Linked DNA regions of Homo sapiens. The protein of the gene in region 1 purifies or fractionates together with the protein of each later gene. This does not show direct contact. Each region holds a gene or a part of one and is shown in the gene's direction. Other genes may lie near its edges.

What was found. The genes of interacting proteins can lie anywhere in the genome.
Region 2: the proteins of MMRN1 (region 1) and F5 purify together in Homo sapiens (affinity purification with mass spectrometry; 3 studies listed by BioGRID and IntAct, with this or other methods). This does not show direct contact.
Region 3: the proteins of MMRN1 (region 1) and CTSV purify together in Homo sapiens (affinity purification with mass spectrometry; 3 studies listed by BioGRID and IntAct, with this or other methods). This does not show direct contact.

Annotation. Positions count from the first base shown.
Region 1 is NC_000004.12:89,946,839-89,953,863, forward strand, and holds part of MMRN1 (multimerin-1 isoform 1 precursor), read left to right. Parts: intron 1-4,766; coding exon 4,767-4,913; intron 4,914-6,158; coding exon 6,159-6,580; 3' UTR 6,581-7,025. UniProt on the Homo sapiens protein: Carrier protein for platelet (but not plasma) factor V/Va. Plays a role in the storage and stabilization of factor V in platelets. Upon release following platelet activation, may limit platelet and plasma factor Va-dependent thrombin generation.
Region 2 is NC_000001.11:169,513,469-169,520,493, reverse strand, and holds part of F5 (coagulation factor V preproprotein), read left to right. Parts: intron 1-1,930; coding exon 1,931-2,082; intron 2,083-4,867; coding exon 4,868-5,050; intron 5,051-6,034; coding exon 6,035-6,181; 3' UTR 6,182-7,025. UniProt on the Homo sapiens protein: Central regulator of hemostasis. It serves as a critical cofactor for the prothrombinase activity of factor Xa that results in the activation of prothrombin to thrombin.
Region 3 is NC_000009.12:97,036,130-97,043,964, reverse strand, and holds the start of CTSV (cathepsin L2 preproprotein), read left to right. Parts: upstream 1-4,822; 5' UTR 4,823-4,894; intron 4,895-5,911; 5' UTR 5,912-5,921; coding exon 5,922-6,047; intron 6,048-6,349; coding exon 6,350-6,472; intron 6,473-6,566; coding exon 6,567-6,713; intron 6,714-7,217; coding exon 7,218-7,442; intron 7,443-7,835. UniProt on the Homo sapiens protein: Cysteine protease. May have an important role in corneal physiology.

The DNA of each region.
Region 1 (7,025 bases):
ATCAGTTATGCTACTTGCACAGTGGTAGAATGTTGACTTGGAAGAACTATTGAACTAATTGCACTGATCTCCATTAAAAAAAATGGACAGGAAGGAGTTTAAGAGGTTATTGAAGCTCAAGGTAAGGGGAGAAGTTGTGGAAAGTTCGCTTAAATGGATTCACTTCTGGGCACAGTGGCTCACACTGTAATCCCACATTTTGGGAGGCCAAGGCAGGTGGATCACCTGAGGTTGGAAGTTTGAGACCAGCTTGGCCCACACGGTGAAACCCCGTCTCTGCTAAAAATACAAAAAATAGCCTGGCATGGTGGTGCACACCTGTAGTCCCAGCTACTTGGGAGGCTGAGGCAGGAGAATAGCTTAAGTCCAGGAGGCAGAGGTTGCAGTGAGCCAAGATCATGCTACTGCACTCCAGCCTGGACGACAGAGCGAGACTCCATCTCAAAAATAAAACAAATAAATAAATAAATAGATTCATGTCTCTAGGATAACATGACAATGATAGCATAGTGTCAAACTCTGTGACATTTGAGAAACTGGGAAGAAGGTTGAAATTTGATAAGAATGTGGTATTCTATTCCATCTTTTATTAATTTGTCTATTCATTTTTAAAACTACTTTAGTATTTTCTATATGTCAGGCACTGTGCTAATAAGGTTGATATGAAGTTTAAGTCATAGAGAACATGATCCCTGACCTCATGAAAGCTCATACTCTTGTTGGAAGTAAGAAAGACACCAAAGCAATTACAGTTGAGTGTGATGAATTCAAGAAGACAACTTTGGAGCATCAGGCAGCAATGGAGAGAACTAAAGTGATTTACTCCTAGGGATGAGGAAAGATGTCATAAAGAAAATGATGCTTTATTGGAGTTTGATTTTTGTTGGTAATTCAAGAACAAGTAGCCTATTAAGCACAAATATGAGCAGGTACTTATAAAGGTACCTAACCATTTTTTAAGCGTTTTAATAATAAAGGAGAAAAATAAGTCAGGTGGTGTACAAAAGTTGATTTTGTTTTGTTTTGTTTTTTGAGATAGAGTCTCACTCCGTCGCCCAGGCTGGAGTGCAGTGGCGTGACCCTGGCTCACTGCAACCTCCGCCTCCTGGGTTCAAGTAATTCTCCTGCCTCAGCCTCCGGAGTAGCTGGGATTACAGGCACACACCACCACACCCAGCTAATTTTGTATTTTTAGTAGAGATGGGGTTTCACCATGTTAGCCAGGCTGATCTCAAACTCCCGACCTCAGGTGATCTGCCCGCCTCAGCCTCCCAAAGTGCTAGGATTACAGGCGTGAGCCACCGTACCCAGCCAAAAGTTGATTTCTAACTCATTGTATAACAAAGTACAAATAGCTTCAGTTGGAAAATCAGTGCCATTCAATCTTTAGTTGTCTGTTATAAGGCTCTGTACTTGTCACTAATCCATCAGGTATTTTTTTTCTAGTACGTATTTTTATCGATAACTTGGAGGAACGCATGAGACATAAATTTGGAAATGATAACAAAGATAGGGGAGGGTGGCTGAAACATCTATACAGAATAAAACTGAATGCTTTCTATGGACAGAGATGGTAACTCATGTCTAATAAGATAAATTTTATTATCAATAATAATTGTAAATTCATGTTTAAATGAATTAAATAGACATGAGATTTTAGAAAGCTTCAATACATCAGAGCACAGGAGACCTGTTATGAGACAGTGTGATACAGATGCAGAAATAGACAATGAATACTTAATGCTTGTGTTATCTTGACAGAAGTGTAAGTTCATTTCAGCAGGGGTAACTAGCAATTGCTACCATAACCTACTATGCTTGGGCTCAACTGGTACAATATGTCCAGTTCTGGGTGCCATGGACATGATTTTATATTTTAAAATGTGATTATTTTGGCAGAGACTTGGAAAGTCCAGACATACCTAAAATAGCAAAAAGAGGCACAGAAAGGAACTTAAAACAGAAGCAGTCGAAGCAGGTACAGACAAGTGGCTGAGGCATCCTGAGCAGATAATCAGTAGGCACCATGAAAGATGTCCTAGAAGGCAAGCTGTGTGCAGTCTCAAGAAGTTTGGGCTACTGTAACAGTAGTAGTAGATGCAGACCTTCAATTAAACTTAAGTGTAGCCCTACTCCAGATGAATGACCCTAAAAAGAAATTGGAAAATGGGGTAAAATAGCACCCTCTGAAATGACTCAAAGAACTACAGCAAGGCAAGACCCAATTCCTAAAGTAATGGAACATAAAGAAGCAAAAAATGGAATGCTGCTCCTGGACATTAAATAGCAGGCAGAATCCTTGATCCTGAAGATTCAGAGTAGAGCCAACAGCAATGCAGATAAATCTAATTTTTTCCACAGTTTCTTAAGTTCTCCTTATAGCACAGCTTTGATCCCTGATTCATGAACAGGGCCAAGGTTACAGGTGACTGTGATTTTTTATATTTGGGAAAATTAAAATTATAGAGCTGATCAAATTACATAAATAAGTTAGTGTTCCCCCCAACTCTACTGCACAATTGATACATTCCTAGTGAAACCCATTAATTGAAACTTCTCCTGTGAGTTGATCACTGTGCTAAATTCAGAGAATGTAAAAATAAATGAAGCAAATGCTTTGATACAGAATATTCACATTACTATAAGTAATGAAAAGTCATTGATGTTTTTAATGCAGGAAAATAATGGGCAAAGTTCTGGAATGTTAATGAGCAGCAAAAAAGGGATTTGATAATCTATTCACATGCAGCAAAGTGAGGTTAAAGGAATGTTAGCCAGTCGAAATATTTGTTAAAAGGTATTACACACATGTAATATTTTAATACTTTTCTTAATAAGGAAAATAGTTTATAGAATATTGCAGAGAATATATCAAGATAATTCTGATTAATTTCTCATTACATAAGTACAATATTAATATATTTGCTTTGCAAAAAATTTTAATAATACAGGCATGCCGTTTGTTCACATTTTATGTGAATTTCAATTGTATGGCTATGAAACAAAATGTATATAAAAATTTATAGGTCTCACTTCATGAGAAAAATATTACACAAAACAAATAACTTCCAAATTAAAAATCATCAACAATCACCTGGTTTGAAATGAGTGGATGGTAAACTACATCATTACCATAAGGTGGCACCAGAGTAACTGTGGCAAGTAGTATAAGCGCTGAATTCTTCTGACCTTGTTTCTGCATTTACATAATTATGCATTATGTTTATAACCATATTCATAATTTGAAGCTTTCACAACAAATGAAATTATTCTATATGTAATGTGTGAGCTGTAACTTTCTGTCTTCAGTAAACCAAACCTGTTGGAGAATCTACCTCATTCTTTAATTGCTGTCTAATATTCCTCAGTGGGAATATGTTACAATTTATTTAACAAGTCCTGCATCAGTGATCATTTAGGAGTCTTTAAATTTTTCAAGAATGCAAGTGATATCATTTTGAATTGAAGAATTGTCTTTGTGCACATGGACAAGTATGTCTGGAGTATATATATACTGCCAGAAGAAATGTTTGGCTCAAAGTAAATTAACCTTTTTAATACTGATAAATATCGTCACATTGTCCTATTAACAGCTATAGCAGTTTACACTCCAGCCAGCATTGCATGAAAAGGCCCATTTTCCCTTATATTGACATGACTGGATATTTTCTACGTATCTTTTTAAATGTTGCCACCTTATATTTAAATAATGTTATTATTGCTAAATTTATTATTTCTGAATTAGTAATGAGGTTGCATATGCTTTAAAACTTTTAGTGACCTTTTGTGGGTTTTGTTCAATGATTTGCCTACTGATACATTCTCCGTTTTTTAACTTATTTTTTTCTGATCTGTAAGTGAAGACCATTTTCTTATTTTTATTTATTTTTTATTTAAAAAATTAGAGATGGGGTATCACTATGCTGCTCAGGCTGGTCTCAAACACCTGGACTCAAGCCATCCTCTTGCCTTGGCCTCCTGAAGTGGTGGGGTTACAGGTGTGAGCCACCATACCCGGCCTCATTTTCCATTTTTAAGGGAGAATTTTTTTTTTCTTTTCAGAGTTTTTCATATGTTATGAATATTAGTCATTAGATTGCCATGTCTTCTAATTTTGTAACTTATCATTAAACTTTGAAAATGGTGGTTTTCAATGCAAATGAGTTTTAATTCTTAGGTCAAACATGATAATGTTTTTCTCTTATGGTTTCTGAGTTTTGTTTTCCTTTGCTTTGCTTTGTTTTGCTTTGAAAGAATTTTTTAAAATTTTAAAGCTCTAGAAAGATATTCTCCTTTTTTGTTGTAATGCAATCATATTGGTTTTTTTATATTTAGTATTTTTGTATATGTGGAATTTATGTTTCTAATATATATTCAATACCACCTTAGCACCATGTATCGAACAGATATTTTTCTTCTCAGTGATTTAAAGCATTACCTTTATCAAGTACCAGTTTCAAATATACATGATTTGTATTGAGATAATTCTATTCTGTTCTGCAGTTGACAAGAATGTTAACATTTCACACCAATAAATGTAATGGATCACAGAATTTTGCCCACTTTACTGAAGGAGATAGAGAGATCAGAGCTAAGGGATTTGCATGACGTCCTGTGCCCAGATCGACAGGCATCCTGGGCCGTGGAGCCCATTTTTCTTACTTAAAATTCAGTCTTTTTCCTATTCTGCTGCAAACTACGATTTGAGATCAACAGGAAAATAGGTCACTTTATTCTCTTTTACCTTGATTCTTTTTCCGTAACAGAGGAGTATTCAAGCTGTAGTCGGCATCCGTGCCAAAATGGGGGCACGTGCATAAATGGAAGAACTAGCTTTACCTGTGCCTGCAGACATCCTTTTACTGGTGACAACTGCACTATCAAGCTTGTGGAAGAAAATGCTTTAGCTCCAGGTAAAAAAAAAGTATACGCATCTTTGGATTTGCTCATTGTCATAAATAGAAACACGTTTTGAAAATATTTATTAATGAATATTTAAGCCTGCTTAATCTGGATCCACTTGACAATTCCTTTTACTTTTTCGAAACTTACTGAAGAATGTACCTGATTTACAAGTGGAAATGTCCTTTTGTTAGGCAAATTCTTATTCACATGCACCTGTTGAAATTTTCAATATTGCTATATAGAGGCAGTTTATGGAAAATTCTACCCCCTCACAAACTTTTTTTCTCTTGTGCATCCTAAAAATATATGGATGTATATATCTGACTGATAGAAACACTTTCTCCTCAAACAAGCAGTTAAAGAAATACGCCTTTGATTTATGTCTGGTATGGTCATTTAAATGAGGCTTTAATACATGCTTAGTAACACGTTTTCTGTGAAGGTTAAACTAATGGCACCATTTTGACTGTGTGAGAACTGTTAGAACATGCTCAAATGTATTAAGTAAAACAAGATGGCTTTTTTATTTATTTAAATTCATAAGTATTGGTGCTTTGGATTTACTTCAGGAGTGCACCATTTCTGATTTTTATACAGAAATGTATGTGCAGCATAAAAATGTGTTATTTAATGACTGCAAAAAAACCTATTTCAAATCAGCTTTTTCTTAATAATATCCTGCATAGTGAAATGTAAATTTTTTAGTCTGTTTTTAGATCTCAGCCTTTGTAAGTACAATTGGCATTAATTACACAGAAAATTGCCTTTGTCTACTTTGCTGCAGTGAATATGACTTTATATGGTTTTCGTTTTAGCCTTTAGAAACTGCTTGACAAGGTGCCGGAAAAATTGTTTCTACATCATGTCAGCTTCAATTCCTGCAAGGGGCTTTAAAACATTCTGACATAACCATAATAATCATAGAGTGCTTTGAATTCCTTTATCTCTGGGGAGATCAAAGCAACATGCAAATTATCTTTGAGGCATTTCTGTGAGGAAGGTATCAAATGTTATTTTTATTCTGTCCTGATCTAAATGGAGAAACTGAGGCAACAAGAGGCTAAGCAATTTAGAGTAATTTACCCCAGAGAAGAGACAGGCATTGAGACACGTGCACCTTTGCTAAGTTTGATGGATGGCCTTTCTCTTCTGCTAAGACTTTTTGTAACTGAGATAAAAATGACGAAGATATAAGGAAAGAAAAATAAGATAAAAACATGAAAATTAACTCTTGCCATTTTTTCCTCTAACAGATTTTTCCAAAGGATCTTACAGATATGCACCCATGGTGGCATTTTTTGCATCTCATACGTATGGAATGACTATACCTGGTCCTATCCTGTTTAATAACTTGGATGTCAATTATGGAGCTTCATATACCCCAAGAACTGGAAAATTTAGAATTCCGTATCTTGGAGTATATGTTTTCAAGTACACCATCGAGTCATTTAGTGCTCATATTTCTGGATTTTTAGTGGTTGATGGAATAGACAAGCTTGCATTTGAGTCTGAAAATATTAACAGTGAAATACACTGTGATAGGGTTTTAACTGGGGATGCCTTATTAGAATTAAATTATGGGCAGGAAGTCTGGTTACGACTTGCAAAAGGAACAATTCCAGCCAAGTTTCCCCCTGTTACTACATTTAGTGGCTATTTATTATATCGTACATAAGTTAGTATGAAAAACAGACTATCACCTTTATTGAGAAACAGCCAGTGTTTTCATTTATCTTTGCTTGCACATCTGCTCTGTTTTGGTTTTTCTACAGGAAATGAAAATCAACTTGTTTTTTTAATATGAGTAAACTTGTATGTCTATTTTATAAAATTATTTGAATATTGTTTAATGTCTGAATATGAAAGAGTTCTTGATCCTAAAGAAATTTAGTGGCACAGAAAACAAAGTGAATTTGTTAGCATAATTATTCCTATTCTTATTTCTTCATTTTAAGTCATTGCAATGGAAAGTAATATTATAAAATGGTAATTACAACATATTATCAGTCACAGTTTTCTTTCCAATTAAACACTTAACTTTTGTTATTCCCTGTATATAAATATATAACACACATTTTCTAGATTCACAAATTTAAATAAATTACTCAAAAAATGAAAAT
Region 2 (7,025 bases), on another chromosome or scaffold:
TCACTGCCACTCAAAGAATCAAGATTTGGGAGGTATAGGAGAATGAGTAGAATTTTTAGTTCTTTTCAGTGACTTAGGCTCCTAGGAAAACCTTTGTGAAACAGAGGTTCTACTCAGGTAAACTCTCAGTGTGATCTAGACCAAGAATGGTTCTGCCAATCAGAGTGCCGACAGCATCTCTGTGAAGAAAGTGCCTGGATTATATAGACACATCACAACTCTCCAAGGAAGGGCTCTAATTTGGAATTACCTCCATCAGCCCATTTTCAATAAGACCTACCTGAGATTCAAACTAGGCCTGACTCTTCCAAAGTCCTCAGGTCACTCAAACTTCAATGTCATGACAGTATCTGGCAACATCACTGCCATATATATGGTGTTCAATGAGTGTTTTTGAAATCTGAATTGGCTTCCCAACTTCCTGAAACCACAATTCTTCTTTATATTTTCTTTCATACCCTGTGTAGGTACTCAAGTCTTTTCTATGTTAGCTGCTATTTCTCAGGGGCTGTAATGTGACCTGTGGTATAAATAAATCCAGGTAATCATAAATGGTCATAATAAAATTCTACTATATATAGCAAGGATGTTTAAGAGTCTTAACTGTTCTTCTTGGACTCTTAAAGCAGTGCTTTCCAATATTTTTTACTTCAAAGCACACAAAGAAAATAATATCTGCCTGGCATTCTGAGGTAAAAGAATGAAGCAATAAATCTAAGGCTTGGCTGATCCAGGCCCCACTTGGCTGCTGAAGGGCTGGAGGTGGGAAGAGGGATCAATAAATAGGTGCACTAGAAACCTGCCGTGGCACACCTGTCAGGAGTTGCAGTACTTCCCTTTGGGTGGAGAGAAGCCACCATGATTCACAATGGAGAAAGTAGCTGAAACCTGGAATCAGTTTCCTGTTGAAGCAGATAATGGCACAGTATACCCTTGGATGGATATGGGTATTTTGCCAATGTCCAGATAGCAGTAGTCTAAAACATCTCCCAAATAAAACACAGATCTTGTATCGGCAGGACCACTCCTTGAAACAGTTCCATAAGTCATTGCGTTTTTTTCTTTCCATATGGTATAAATAGATTTGTTCAGATCCTAATAAACTACCCTAAAATGTGACATTCAATTCTGCTAACTTATTTAAAACATCTATTTTTTATACAAGAAGCATTATTTTCTTCTTATTCATTTTCTTGATACTTAGGTAATTATTAGCAGTGGGTATTATTTTTAGGACCCTTTGTTTTTTTCATGGAGAAAGTAAGGCATCACTTCAAGAAAATTTCTGCATGATTTACCAACAAGAACAAAGTGTCACAGAGATGATGGGTGGTCAGCCAGGTTCACTCACTAGCTGTGTTTCTTACAGTCACAGGTCTGCCTTGCTGCCTATGATATTCAAATTACACCTTGGAAAAATTCCAAAGGGTACATAACTCGAATTACCCTCTAAGGGTTGAAACAGAAAATATTAAATAGTGACTGAGGGTCCATTGTATCTTCTTGGTAGCTTTTGTTAGAAGAAACAGAGTATTTTTATATATAGATAATTTAGGATTATTGTCACCTGAAAGCAAAGACCAAAGTTTCCAAGACTCTCAGAAGGAGGAAGTGAGTTTAAATGTTTAGAACATGGTATTTGGTATCAGATTGTCTGAACTCAATTCAGTTTCTGATTCTTGTGGCTGTGTTACCTTAGACAAGTTACTGTGTTTTGGCTGTACTAAAATGGAGATATTTATGAGCATTATATAATACATGTAAAGCCTGAGAACAGTATTTGGCACTTGGATTCAATAAATCTTCATTGTTGTGGTTATTGTTTTTGTCATTTGTTGGTAGTAATATTATTTCTTATCTCCTCTGCAGTGCATGAAGCCATGCAGGGAATATTGGTGTGTAATTAATCACGTTACTTTTCTTTTGATAGGATGTTCCACACCCCTGGGTATGGAAAATGGAAAGATAGAAAACAAGCAAATCACAGCTTCTTCGTTTAAGAAATCTTGGTGGGGAGATTACTGGGAACCCTTCCGTGCCCGTCTGAATGCCCAGGGACGTGTGAATGCCTGGCAAGCCAAGGTCAAGTATACTCTATGCATGGTGTTCTCTTAGGGCTCCAGAAGAAAGCAAAGGCCCTCACTACCACAAACATGGAGGATCTGGGAAGCAGGAGTATTTTAATCTGTTTCTGCAGATTAAAATCCTAGGTCCAAGAGTCCAGGATGTCTGTGGACTTGATAGCTTTGACTATAACTTTGTCTCAGAGAGAAGTCATTTATCATCTCTGTGGTTTTTGGTCTAGTCTTGATTTAAACCAATAATAAGCAAATTAATTTTTCTGCAAAGGGATAGATGGTAAATATTTTAGTCTTTGTGGGCCATACATTCTCTGCCATAACTACTCAACTCTGCCATTGTAGCAGTAAAGTAGCCATAAACAATATGTAAATGAATGAGCTGGCTGTGTTCTAATAAAACTTTGTTTACAAAAAACAGGCAGCGGGCCAAATTTGGCCCATGGATCATAGTTTGCCAACTCCTCATTTAGACAGCTTACATTAGTGATAAAAAAATGATTTAGATTTGCAACATCATCTCTTATTTTTTCTTTACAATTTAGCAATATTTTTTCATTTTCCTAAATGAAATGTCATCTAAACTTTTTTGTTCTCTTCCCCGCCCTCCTTATTTTAAGAGCTTTGTGATATTCCTTGAGGCAACTAGAAGCATAGTAAAATGTTGCAAAACCAGAGTTATAAAATCAGTGATCTAAGTTAAACAAACACCTTCCAGAGAGTTATACTGTCCCTGATATTAGCCCACTGAGTAATTCAGGTGATTTAATTTGGGGGTAACTCTTAATATTTGACTCATTTTTATTAATTCTTTAAATGACCTGAGATATCAGAATGGCATGAATAACTTGATGATCCCTTCAGCCAACTAAATCCAAATTCCCTAATTTCTATCCTCATATCTCCCTCCCTTAAGATACCTACACTCCAATTTCCTGGCTTTCTATAGAATTCCAGGGCCTATCCTTAAATTAGGCCACTAGAAAGGAAAAAAGAATTGTGGTGCTGGTGGCGTAAATAGAAAAGATTGGATTCCACACAGTCTTGGGAACTGATATCTGTGTCTTGAAACTCATTCTGGCCCAATATGGAATCACAGAATGTTACAGTAGCAAGGAGCAAAGCATCTGGTCTAGATTTTTCCTTTTAATTCTAAATACACAGGAGATTAAATAATTTTAGCTTAGTTTGGTAGCAGAATCAGGACTAGAATCCCATTCTCCCAGTAAACAGGCCATGCTCCTTCCACCATTTGAAGCAGCCCAAATACCTCATTTTGCAATTTTGCAGAGGGCAAAGCTGACACCCAGAGAAGTTAAAATAATAAAAATAGTGTTATATTACATTTATATAATTTACATAGCAATATAAATAATAATTAAAGAGATGTTATCCAATTCTTTTTCAGATGACTCTTTAGACTTGTTCATGGTATAACCTTGTCACTCCATACTTCATTTTACAATCTTTTAAAAAAATTTGCACTCTCTATAATTTGCTCTTAGTCTTTGTGATATAACAAGGGCCTCAAAGATAAAATGCTAATTTTTAATGGTGTCATTTCAAAGTTAGAATTCGGGATCAGAAATATGTGTTTTACTTAACCCCCTTCCATTCACATGAAATGTCTTTATATGGTCTCTTTAGAGAGGTTGAAAATCAAAGCTGGACATATGCAGTGATGCACATAGATGCTGTTCTCTCCATAACTAAAATGTCTCTACCTCTTTTATGCCTGTGAAAACCTCTAGCTGGTTATACTCTGCATCACTGGTACAACCTTGATATGAAGACACACTAAGATACCACCCAGATGTCACTAGAGGATGTTATAGACTTAAAAGTTTTCTCATATAATCATTCTAATTCAGTTAATTTGCTTTTAAAATACATATAGCATGTGAATTTTTGTGTATACACATATATACACATACACCTATATATACACATACACTTATGTATGTGTGGGTGATGTTGAAGAAACATATCAATATTATTTCCTTTAGAATTGAATGAGGTTATGGTAGACGATAAATCTCCCAAAGGTAAAAATTTATCTTAGATGACTCTAAAACTCAGTTTAGACCTTCTGATCTTTCTCCAAACACATATCACCAACCATGTGATTAGGCATTTTGTTAGGCCAGAGACAGGACAATAACTGTACTGTGTATCAAGCTCTACTTATGGTTTTATCAGGTCTCTCAAATGTTACATTTATTTGAAATATTAGAAGAAATTGAACTATTTCTGCTCTTTGACATTAACAGGGGGAAAGAGAAGTTGTGTTTTGTAAAACAGGTGAAATAGAGAGAGAATGCTATCCAATTATTTCCCAGATAACCCTGCAGCAATATTACCAGAGTATTTAAAGAAATTTGCTTAAGAAAATAATATTCACAGATAATTTAGCAGTTTAATTATTTTTCCAAATAAAGCTCATTTATTCATTCATTTATTCAACAACTATTTATTGAACACCAACTGAGTGTCTTAACATTGTGGTGAGTACCAGGAAACAAAATGAAATAAGCCTCTACCCTTAAGCAGTAAGGAATGCTAAGAAGGAAACAATTATAGTACAATGTGTGAAATACTTCAATAAAAATTTACACACATATTGTGGCAATGAAGAAGAAAGAGGGAAAGCTTCTAGGAGACTGTGAATCCTAAGGGATAAGATAGAACAAAATCCTTTTGAGCTCTGTGCTTTTTTGCATAACTTGGTCTAAAAAAAAAGCAAAGGTTTTAACATCTTCCTTATCTATGTGTTTTTGTCATTTTCATAGGCAAACAACAATAAGCAGTGGCTAGAAATTGATCTACTCAAGATCAAGAAGATAACGGCAATTATAACACAGGGCTGCAAGTCTCTGTCCTCTGAAATGTATGTAAAGAGCTATACCATCCACTACAGTGAGCAGGGAGTGGAATGGAAACCATACAGGCTGAAATCCTCCATGGTGGACAAGGTAGAGTGGCATCTGGGCAAAGAGAAAGCAATCTGAAGACTGTGCTATAATGAGAATAACAGTATTTTGCATTTGACAAATATGCAGTGACATGTACCACCTCTTTAAGTCTTCTAAATCTTAGTTCTTAAGGTGCCTGGTCTCAGACAAACTCCTGGTTGTCTGTTTTGGTTTGTTTTATTTCTCACTACACCAGGTTGCCCTCATAGGAGGATAAATATCATTGTCATAAAAAAAAAGAGTGATTTTATTTCTGGTGTGTGTAAACCTTGGGGAACTTGCTGATGATGGAAGGGGGAAAGTTATACACTTTAGTTGAGGATATAAGGTACATGCCAACAAGAATAAATAAATTAAAATGCATGGTCACATTTTAAATGTTAGCAATAGTCAAACATTTATTGGTGGCCACTTCCTGGCACTTACTATGCACTTACGTTGACATACATTTTTAAATATTTACAATGACTTCTGTGAGGTAAAATGTTATTATCCTTATTTTGCCAATGAGGAAATGAAGAATCAGAGAATAAGTAACTTGTTCAGTCATACAGCTAATACAGACGGGCTGAAGGCAGAAATGGTTTTGCAGCTGCTCCACAGCACCATGTGAGACTTGTTTATTTTTCACTAATTTAAGTCAGATCACTGGTGAGATGAAATCTATCTGGCATGTGATTTCATAACTGATAGAGGATCATCTCTGTGAGAGTGTTCTATGTGTTCTTTGATATGCTCATTTTGAGCTAATAGGATAAAAAATTTTCTGGGTTGGGCATGATGGCTCATGTCTGCAATGCCAGCACTTTGGAAGGCTGAGGCAAGAGGATTACTTGAGAGGAGTTTAAGGCTGCAGTGAGCCATGACTGTGCCACTGGACTCAAGCCTGGGCAACAGAATAAGACCCTGTCTAAAAAAAAACAAAAACAAAAAACCTTAGCCATTTATGTTGTCATTAAAGATTTTCTCTTATTTGGCTTTCAGATTTTTGAAGGAAATACTAATACCAAAGGACATGTGAAGAACTTTTTCAACCCCCCAATCATTTCCAGGTTTATCCGTGTCATTCCTAAAACATGGAATCAAAGTATTGCACTTCGCCTGGAACTCTTTGGCTGTGATATTTACTAGAATTGAACATTCAAAAACCCCTGGAAGAGACTCTTTAAGACCTCAAACCATTTAGAATGGGCAATGTATTTTACGCTGTGTTAAATGTTAACAGTTTTCCACTATTTCTCTTTCTTTTCTATTAGTGAATAAAATTTTATACAAGAAGCTTTTATAATGTAACTCCTTGCTACCAGTAAGTAAGATAATGGCTATTACTTCTGCATTAATTTGAATACAGGTAGGAAAATATCAAGAACCAACAAGAAAAGGGCTTATCTTTCTTAATGATTGAAAATGCTATGAAGTAATATTTATGTAGTTAAAATGCTTCATTATAACTCTTTTAAATCCTTTACACACTAGTAAAACAGATATTACTTTAAATAATAATTGATAGACCTGGATAACTTTCACAAACACATGATTTTTTAATGGTTTTTCTTGAGTGAAGAGAAAAACAATATTATCAAATGAAATAAGTACTTAAAATATCCTGTCTTTCCCATATAACAATGATTTTTCTGACTTTCCATGAGTAAAAAAACAGCCAAGCATCTTTCCAGTAGCCCCATTGAAATTGTGAATCCGTCCTGGTCTCCCTAAGGACTGCACACATTGATATTCAAGGTTGGTGGTCATTAGATATGGAACAGAACTGAAATAACCATGGTAGAACTGAATGTGTAATGTTGGCTTTATTCTAGCTGGTACTACATGGCACACAGTTTCAAAACATAATTTCACCTACTGGAAAGCTCAGACCTGTAAAACAGAGCATGGGAACTGCTGGTCTAAATGCAGTTGTTCCTGCTCAAAGAGACCTCTGGCCAAACTGGCAAGCAGTTAAAGTTTTCTTTCAGGG
Region 3 (7,835 bases), on another chromosome or scaffold:
GGCAAGGCACAGATTCTCCCCTAGAACCTCAGGAGGGAGGAAGGGAGGGAGCCCTATCACACCTGGTCTTTAGCCCAATGATGCCTGTTTAGGACTTCTGGCCTCCATAACTGTGAGGGAATAAAGGACTCCTGTTTCAAGCCACCAAGTTTGTGGGGATTTGTTATAGCAGACACAGGAAACGAATACACCTTGTTTCTTGAAAGGACTTTTTGAGGTTTGAAGAATTTTTCAGATTTGGCTGAGAGTTTGTGGATTACTGTTTTAGAGGAGGGGAGAAATTCCACCATTTCTCTTGTGAATTGGTTTCCTTGTTACTTGCTATACAAAGATGCTTCACCATAGTTCCATTTAAATATATCTGTCCTGTTCAATTTGCTATAGAACTGAAATTACTGTAGTGAACCACATATTTAAATATGGAAAGGCTGAACCTCAGAAAGCTGTTAGGAAAGCTAAGAATGTGGAAGTGAATGCTCATGCTACACCAGAAGAGGAGAACTGGTACCGAGTAAGAGCTGAATTCTCATTGATTGATTTACGTGCTTGATGAATTGGCTGATAGTTTAACTCTACAGGAAAAGCACAGTTACAGTAACCAAGAAAAGTAGTTATTTCATAAGTGGTTTTATATGAACCTCAAATCATAAACAGGCTGTTTGCTATACGATTATCAATGGTGACAAACCATTTTGCAAGTGGACAGTTTGCTGGATAATGCTTCTTAAGAGTAATTCTTGGCTCAGTGAATTTAAACAAATCGGAGGGGGTTATTATACTGGGGAGAGGTGTTAAGTGATGTCAGGGTCTTGAATGCCACCACACTAAGTTTGCCAGTTCCCCTATGGTTTAAAATTTCCGGAGACTGGGTAAAGAATCACATCCTCTTTTATTTATTTATTTATTTTTGAGACAGAGTCTCACTCTGTTGCCCAGGCTAGAGTGCAATGGCGCAATCTCGGCTCACTGCAACCTCCACCTCTCCGCGATTCTCCTGCCTCAGCCTCCCAAGTAGCTGGGACTACAGGCATGCACCACCACACCTGCCTAACTTTTTTTGTATTTTTAGTAGAGACAGGGTTTCACTATGTTGGCCAGGCTTGTTTCAAACTCCTGACCTCAAGTAATCCACCCACTTCAGCCTCCCAAAGTGCTAGGATTACAGACGTGAGCCACCATGGCTGGCCTATATCCTCTTTTAATAGTGAGTAAAAGAAAGCTACACAGATGCACGTGAGAATATACTTTCACAGGCACTGCGTTTTAAATAGGAATCAGGAAGTTCTGCCAACTCCATTTTATTAAAGGCATAACCAAGGCTTGGTTGCTTCACTAACATGTGACTGTTCTAAAAATTATCACTCATCAAAATTATTTTGCAAAGAAATAGGAATAGAAGAGTAGGGAAAGAAACAAATATTTAAATACAACTGTCCTGGCTAGTAATACCACATTTCTGTAATGCATTTTTTTACAGATGTGTATAAATAGATATAAATAGGTGTCCTAAGTTGGAGCAATAACGTCTTCCACCCTCTTGCTTATTGGCTTTCTCCCATATTTCTTCTGCATTTACATATTTCTGGTATAATTTTAGATTTGGGGCACACTTGGTTTGAAAAGGGTCTATGTTTTCTCCACTACTTTTGTCTCACATTCCAAAAAACAAAGGGGATGCCATTCTTCAGGGCAGCACCTGCCACTCATCTGCTGTCAGGCTATTGCTTAAGGCACAGATCTTAATGGCCTGGCAGGTTTCTCCACCCTACAATCTTAGGGAGCTGTGGCCCAAGGGCAACTGTAAAACCCACGTGTTAGAATAACTTAGCTTTCTTGTGATAGACTGAGTAAACAAATAGACAATGGCCATAGTATATGGCAATAGAACTCTGACCCACAGAAGAAATGAAGCATAATATCTGCAGAGACCAACTCAGAACAGTCAGGACTTACTCAGTGGCTGACAGCTTCCTCATTTTTGCCTCTGCTTCCAACCCAGGACAAACCAGAAAAACCAAATATACTCCACAAACAAATCACATAAGACGCTCCATCTCTAGTTATCCCTCCTTCAGCTTCTCCATGACGACACTCTGCAAAGAGGACATAGCTGAAGTTGCCCCCTTTTTCCCCTAAAGCTTTTCTTCTCCCTCGTCTTTGAATTATCTCCTTTGTTATAGCAAGTTCTGAATATATGGCCTCTGTTTGTTCTTAGGTGGTGGTCTTCATTTATTTCCACATGTGAATGATGATTGTGTTCAACACAATGATTAATTTTTAAAAAAGAAAAAAAACAGCTATTTGCAGTACAAGATGCTTTTTTTTTTTTTTTGAGACGGCAAATTTGCAGTACAAGTACAAGATGCTTTTTTTTTTTTTTTTTTTTTTTTGGGACGGCATCTCGCTCTGTCACCCAGGTTGGAGTGCAGTGGCGCATGCTCTGCTCCGCTCACTACAACCTCAGTCTCCCAAGTAGTTGGGACTACAGGCATGCATCACCATGCCTGGCTAATTTTTGTTTGTTTGTTTTGTATTTTTGGTAGAGGTGTGATTTCGCCATGTTGCCCAGGCTGGTCTCAAACTCCCAGGCTCAGGAGATCCACCTACCTTGGCCTGCAATACAATATACTTTTGTATTTTTTATATAACCACCTGACAGCTTTGGCCCCTAGTTGTATTTGAGAGGGAAAAGCTGCTATTTATTTAAAGGAAGGACATATAATTATTAATAAATTGATTTTTAAAAAGATGTATTTGCCTGATGGTGCTTCTGAAAAGTTGTCAGTTTAATTGTTTTTAATTTGTTAAAAGAAAATCCATAGCCAAATTAAATTTAAGAGAATTTAATTGAGCAAAAAACAATTCGTGAATCTGGCAGCCTCCAGTGCCAGAGTAGGCTCAGAGAGACTCCAGTGCAGCCACATGGGGGAAGATTTATAGACAGAAAAGGGCAAGTGAGGCACAGAAACTGCAGGATTGGATACAGCTCCATGTTTGCCTTATTTGAACATGGTTTGAACAACTGAACCTCTTTGATTTACAGAAATTCGGGGATAGGCACAAGAGCAGGCTACAGTCTGTTTACACCTCCATTTAGATTACAATTCGCTATGTACAGAGAAACCTTTAGGCCAAACTTAAATCACATGGGGAGGCAGCTTTAGGCTAAACTTGATTTCACAAATTTTCAAATTAACAAGTAAAAACTGTGGATATTATTCAATTTAATCTTTAAGAGTTTATTAATCAATATGCATTATAACTTCATTTTTGTAAAAACAAAAAAAGATATGCCTAGAAAAGGGTTATGGAGAGGGCACAAGGGACGTTTATTTTCTAAAACATATTTTTTATAATGGATTTTTTTATATAACTTTAAAAAGAATTAGAAACGTTTCTGAATTATTAATGATTTCCTTAAATCTTTAGCTACATATATTTCTCCATAAAGAGCAGTTCCTCAAACTGCATCACCTCAACCCTGATATTATATATTTTTATTTTTATTTTTATTTTTTGAGACAGAGTTTCGCTCTGTCACCAGTCTGGAGTGCAGTGGCACGATCTCAGCTCACTGCAACCTCCGCCTCTCGGGTTCAAGCAATTCTCCTGCCTCAGCCTCCTGAGTAGCTGGGACTACAGGCGCCCGCCACCACGCCCAGCTAATTTTTGCATTTTTAGTAGAGACAGGGTTTCACCATGTTGGCCAGGATGGTCTCGATATCATGACCTCGTGATCCGCCCGCCTCGGCCTCCCAAAGTGCTGGGATTACAGGTGTAAGCCACCGCGCCCGGCCGGTATTAAACATTTTTAAAGTAAATTTATTAAATCTCAAAAGAAGCACACTTTGAATACTGAGGAAGAGACGTTGTAACCCATAAGCAGAGAGTAGGTAAGTAAAAGCAATTTCCACCACTCTCAGACTGGGCGTAGTGGCTCACGCCTGTAATCCCACCACTTTTGGGAGGCTGAGAGGGGAGGATCGCTTGAGGCCAGGAATTCAAGAGCAGCCTAAGGAAACTTAGCCAAACTCCATTTCTACAAAAGAAAAATTTTTAAAGCAATTTATTTCACCATTCTCAACGCTTTTCTCTTTTTTATTAACCAAATATTTCTGTAACTCTTTTTTTTTTTTTTTTTTTTTTTTTTGGTATTGAAAGACATGGGAGAAGGAAGAATTCCTGAATGCAACAGACTGGGAAGGACGCACCACAAAACGCTCCGCGGTCTCTGGACACCCTATCAGCTAGTCCCGTCCCTCCTGGTGTCCGGTCTCGACCATCCATCCCGTGTTTTGGGAGTGCCTTTCCTTACCAGATTCTTCTAAAGCCCTGATGCACCCACCCTTAAGTGGAAGGTAATGCTTCTGCTGGGGGCTGTGCGTTCTTCCACTCCGTCCCACCTTTGCCGTGGACTAAACAGGAGCCACTGAACGAGAGTACCCTGGCTCCCGGCCCTGCAGATTTTCACCAAAAACTCTAGGACTAAGTTAAAGTAGGGACTGAAATACCACACAGAGCTCGCTGTAAACCACCCGCTCAGCGCAGTAAGTCGGGATAGTCAGTAGATCTGAGCCCTTGAGGGAGGCGCCTCCCCCTCCTCCGCGCAGCCCCCGGGCGCCCGGCCCAGCTTCCCGCAGCCAGGGTGTATTGAGGTAGGCGCGCCCAGACCTGAGACGGGTTGGGACTGGGCTGCGTCACGCGCGGGCTCTAAGCGCCCGGGGCCCCGCCCAGTGGCCGGCACAGCCAATCGCAGCGCGGGAAGGCGGTGGGGGCGGGGAAGGCCGCCTGGAAACTTAAATCCCGAGGCGGGCGAACCTGCACCAGACCGCGGACGTCTGTAATCTCAGAGGCTTGTTTGCTGAGGGTGCCTGCGCAGCTGCGACGGCTGCTGGTGAGCGCCCCCGACCAGACCGAGGGACAGGGCGAAGGGGGACTGGAGGAGGGAACCCCCCTTTAGGGACACTGAGAGGAGGCGGGCGCTTCTGGGAGTGAGAGCTTCTGCCCGGAGCTCTGCCAGCCTCGAGGTGGGGAACGGGGGAGGGCGGTTGGAGACCCCAGGGAGGCGCCGGCACCACTGGGAGGGCCCGGGCGGGGCAGGTCAGTCATCCTGTGGGCTGAAGCCGGACCGGACCGGGCGGCTTCATGCCCCCAGCCTGGCCGCGGAGCCCCCGCTCCCTGCACCGCCGCAAACATTCTCGGGGCGCGGCGGCGCGTGCAGAGGGCGAGAGCAGGCGGTGCGGCCCCGGTCCTGGCCCGCCCGGAGCTCCGGGAGCTGCCTGCCTCGGTCCGGGCCCTGGCCCTGGGGCCCCTGGCTTCCAGCGGCGCGGCCTTGTGACCCTGCCCCGGTTTAGGGGAGCGAGTAGCACAGACCCAAGTGTGGGACGGCGGGAATAGTGGGTGCTCTCCTTCCCAGTGTCTCCTGGAAAGGGATTCCCGAAAGGTTTTATTCCAAAAGGAGAGGTTGGAAGACATAGCTCATCTCCTGCTGTGTATCAGCCAAGAAGGTGTGAGGTGGTGTTCCTTGGGGATCCGCTTGCATCTACTTGGGATGGTACGTCTTCATTAGTGAGGTTTTGCCTGGATGACCTCAGTACAATTGGTGCAAAACCTGGACCAACTCTTTCCTAGTTTTCTAGTTGTTGCCTTAAGCTTCTCACCCGTCAGGTATCTTTCACACCCTTCTCATACCCTAAATTATCGCATATGCTGTTTCAACGCCTCCAACTCTGCAGGCTGCTTTTAATTTTGGTGGGCCCATCAAATACCTCCACTTGGCCTGTTTCAGCCTCTTCCACAGTCCTTGGGGAAATGCTAGGGAGAATAATTGAAATATTTCTATTCCACGGGGGCTGTAAGATGGCTTTTTAGGATTGGTCTAATCAGATACTCATTTCTTTTCTCTTTCTAGGTTTTGAAACATGAATCTTTCGCTCGTCCTGGCTGCCTTTTGCTTGGGAATAGCCTCCGCTGTTCCAAAATTTGACCAAAATTTGGATACAAAGTGGTACCAGTGGAAGGCAACACACAGAAGATTATATGGCGCGGTTGGTAACATCTGAAACTGTCCAGAGGGACTCTGGAGAGAATGGTCCTCGCTGTTGGGAGTTGATAGCCAGAGAGTAGCTTCTAGACACCAGACCTTACCAGGCAATAACCTAACAGCACCCATTATAGGTGCAATATGGGCATATATCTCCATTGTGTCTTGGCTTGGAGAACAGCTCCCAGAGAAGTATCAACCCATCCCTGGCCATGGTTTCTCTTCCATTTCTGCCCGCAAATCGGCTTGGTGAACATGGGTTGGGTAAGTAGACATAAAGTCCACCAGCTATATGTTTGCCTCTAGAATGAAGAAGGATGGAGGAGAGCAGTGTGGGAAAAGAATATGAAAATGATTGAACTGCACAATGGGGAATACAGCCAAGGGAAACATGGCTTCACAATGGCCATGAATGCTTTTGGTGACATGGTGAGTGTGGCAAGGATTGCTGAACTCTGTGCTGCTTCTCAGTTCTTCACCAAAATAGTCTTGCTTTTAACATTTTATTTACTTCTCCTTGAAGACCAATGAAGAATTCAGGCAGATGATGGGTTGCTTTCGAAACCAGAAATTCAGGAAGGGGAAAGTGTTCCGTGAGCCTCTGTTTCTTGATCTTCCCAAATCTGTGGATTGGAGAAAGAAAGGCTACGTGACGCCAGTGAAGAATCAGGTGAGACAGCGTCAGATTCAGACCCTGTCTCCACAGGAAAGCCAAGAAGGAATTGGTGTCATTGCTGTGGTAGATGGTGGCACAACATATGGTGATGGGTTTTTTGTATTTTTGGTTTTTGGTGTTTTTTTTGTTTGCTTGTTTGAGACGGAGTTTAGCTCTTGTTGCCCAGGCTGGATTGCAATGGCGTGATCTCGTCTCACTGCAACCTCTGCCTCCTGGGTTCAAGAGATTCTCCTGCCTCCACCTCCCGAGTAGCTGGGATTGCAAGTGCTCACCACCATGCCCAGCTAATTTTTGTGTATTTTTAGTAGCGACAGGGTTTCACCATGTTGGCCAGGCGGATTTCAAACTCCTCTCCTCAAGTGATCTGCCCGCCTCGGCCTCCCAAAGTGTGGCGATGGGTTTTTTTTTTTTTTAAAGAATATTAAGGTAATTCAATTATGGGGTACTGTATTTGTATTGGTCTTGTAAATTTACAGCTTTTTTTTTCTCCCTTTTTAGAAACAGTGTGGTTCTTGTTGGGCTTTTAGTGCGACTGGTGCTCTTGAAGGACAGATGTTCCGGAAAACTGGGAAACTTGTCTCACTGAGCGAGCAGAATCTGGTGGACTGTTCGCGTCCTCAAGGCAATCAGGGCTGCAATGGTGGCTTCATGGCTAGGGCCTTCCAGTATGTCAAGGAGAACGGAGGCCTGGACTCTGAGGAATCCTATCCATATGTAGCAGTGGTAAATGGAGCTCCTTATCTTGTCATTCGTGCTCTGCTTTTGGAAAGTGGAACACTTTCAGAGATAACAGATACTTTTTTCAGAATTCACATTTTATATGGTAGAATCTACATCTGCAAACCGTGAGTATTGTCATTATAAATTATTAGCCTTTGGCCAGGCGTGGTGGATCACCTGTAATCCCAGCAGTTTGGGAGGCCGAGACAGGCGGATCACGAGGTCAGGAGATCAAGACAATCCTGGCTAACACAGTGAAACCCCGTCTCTACTAAAAATACAAAAAAATTAGCCCGGCCTGGTGGCGGGTGCCCGTAGTCCCAGCTACTCAGGAGACTGAGGCAGGAGAATGACGTGAACCCGGGAGGCGGAGCTTGCAGTGAGCCAAGATCGCAC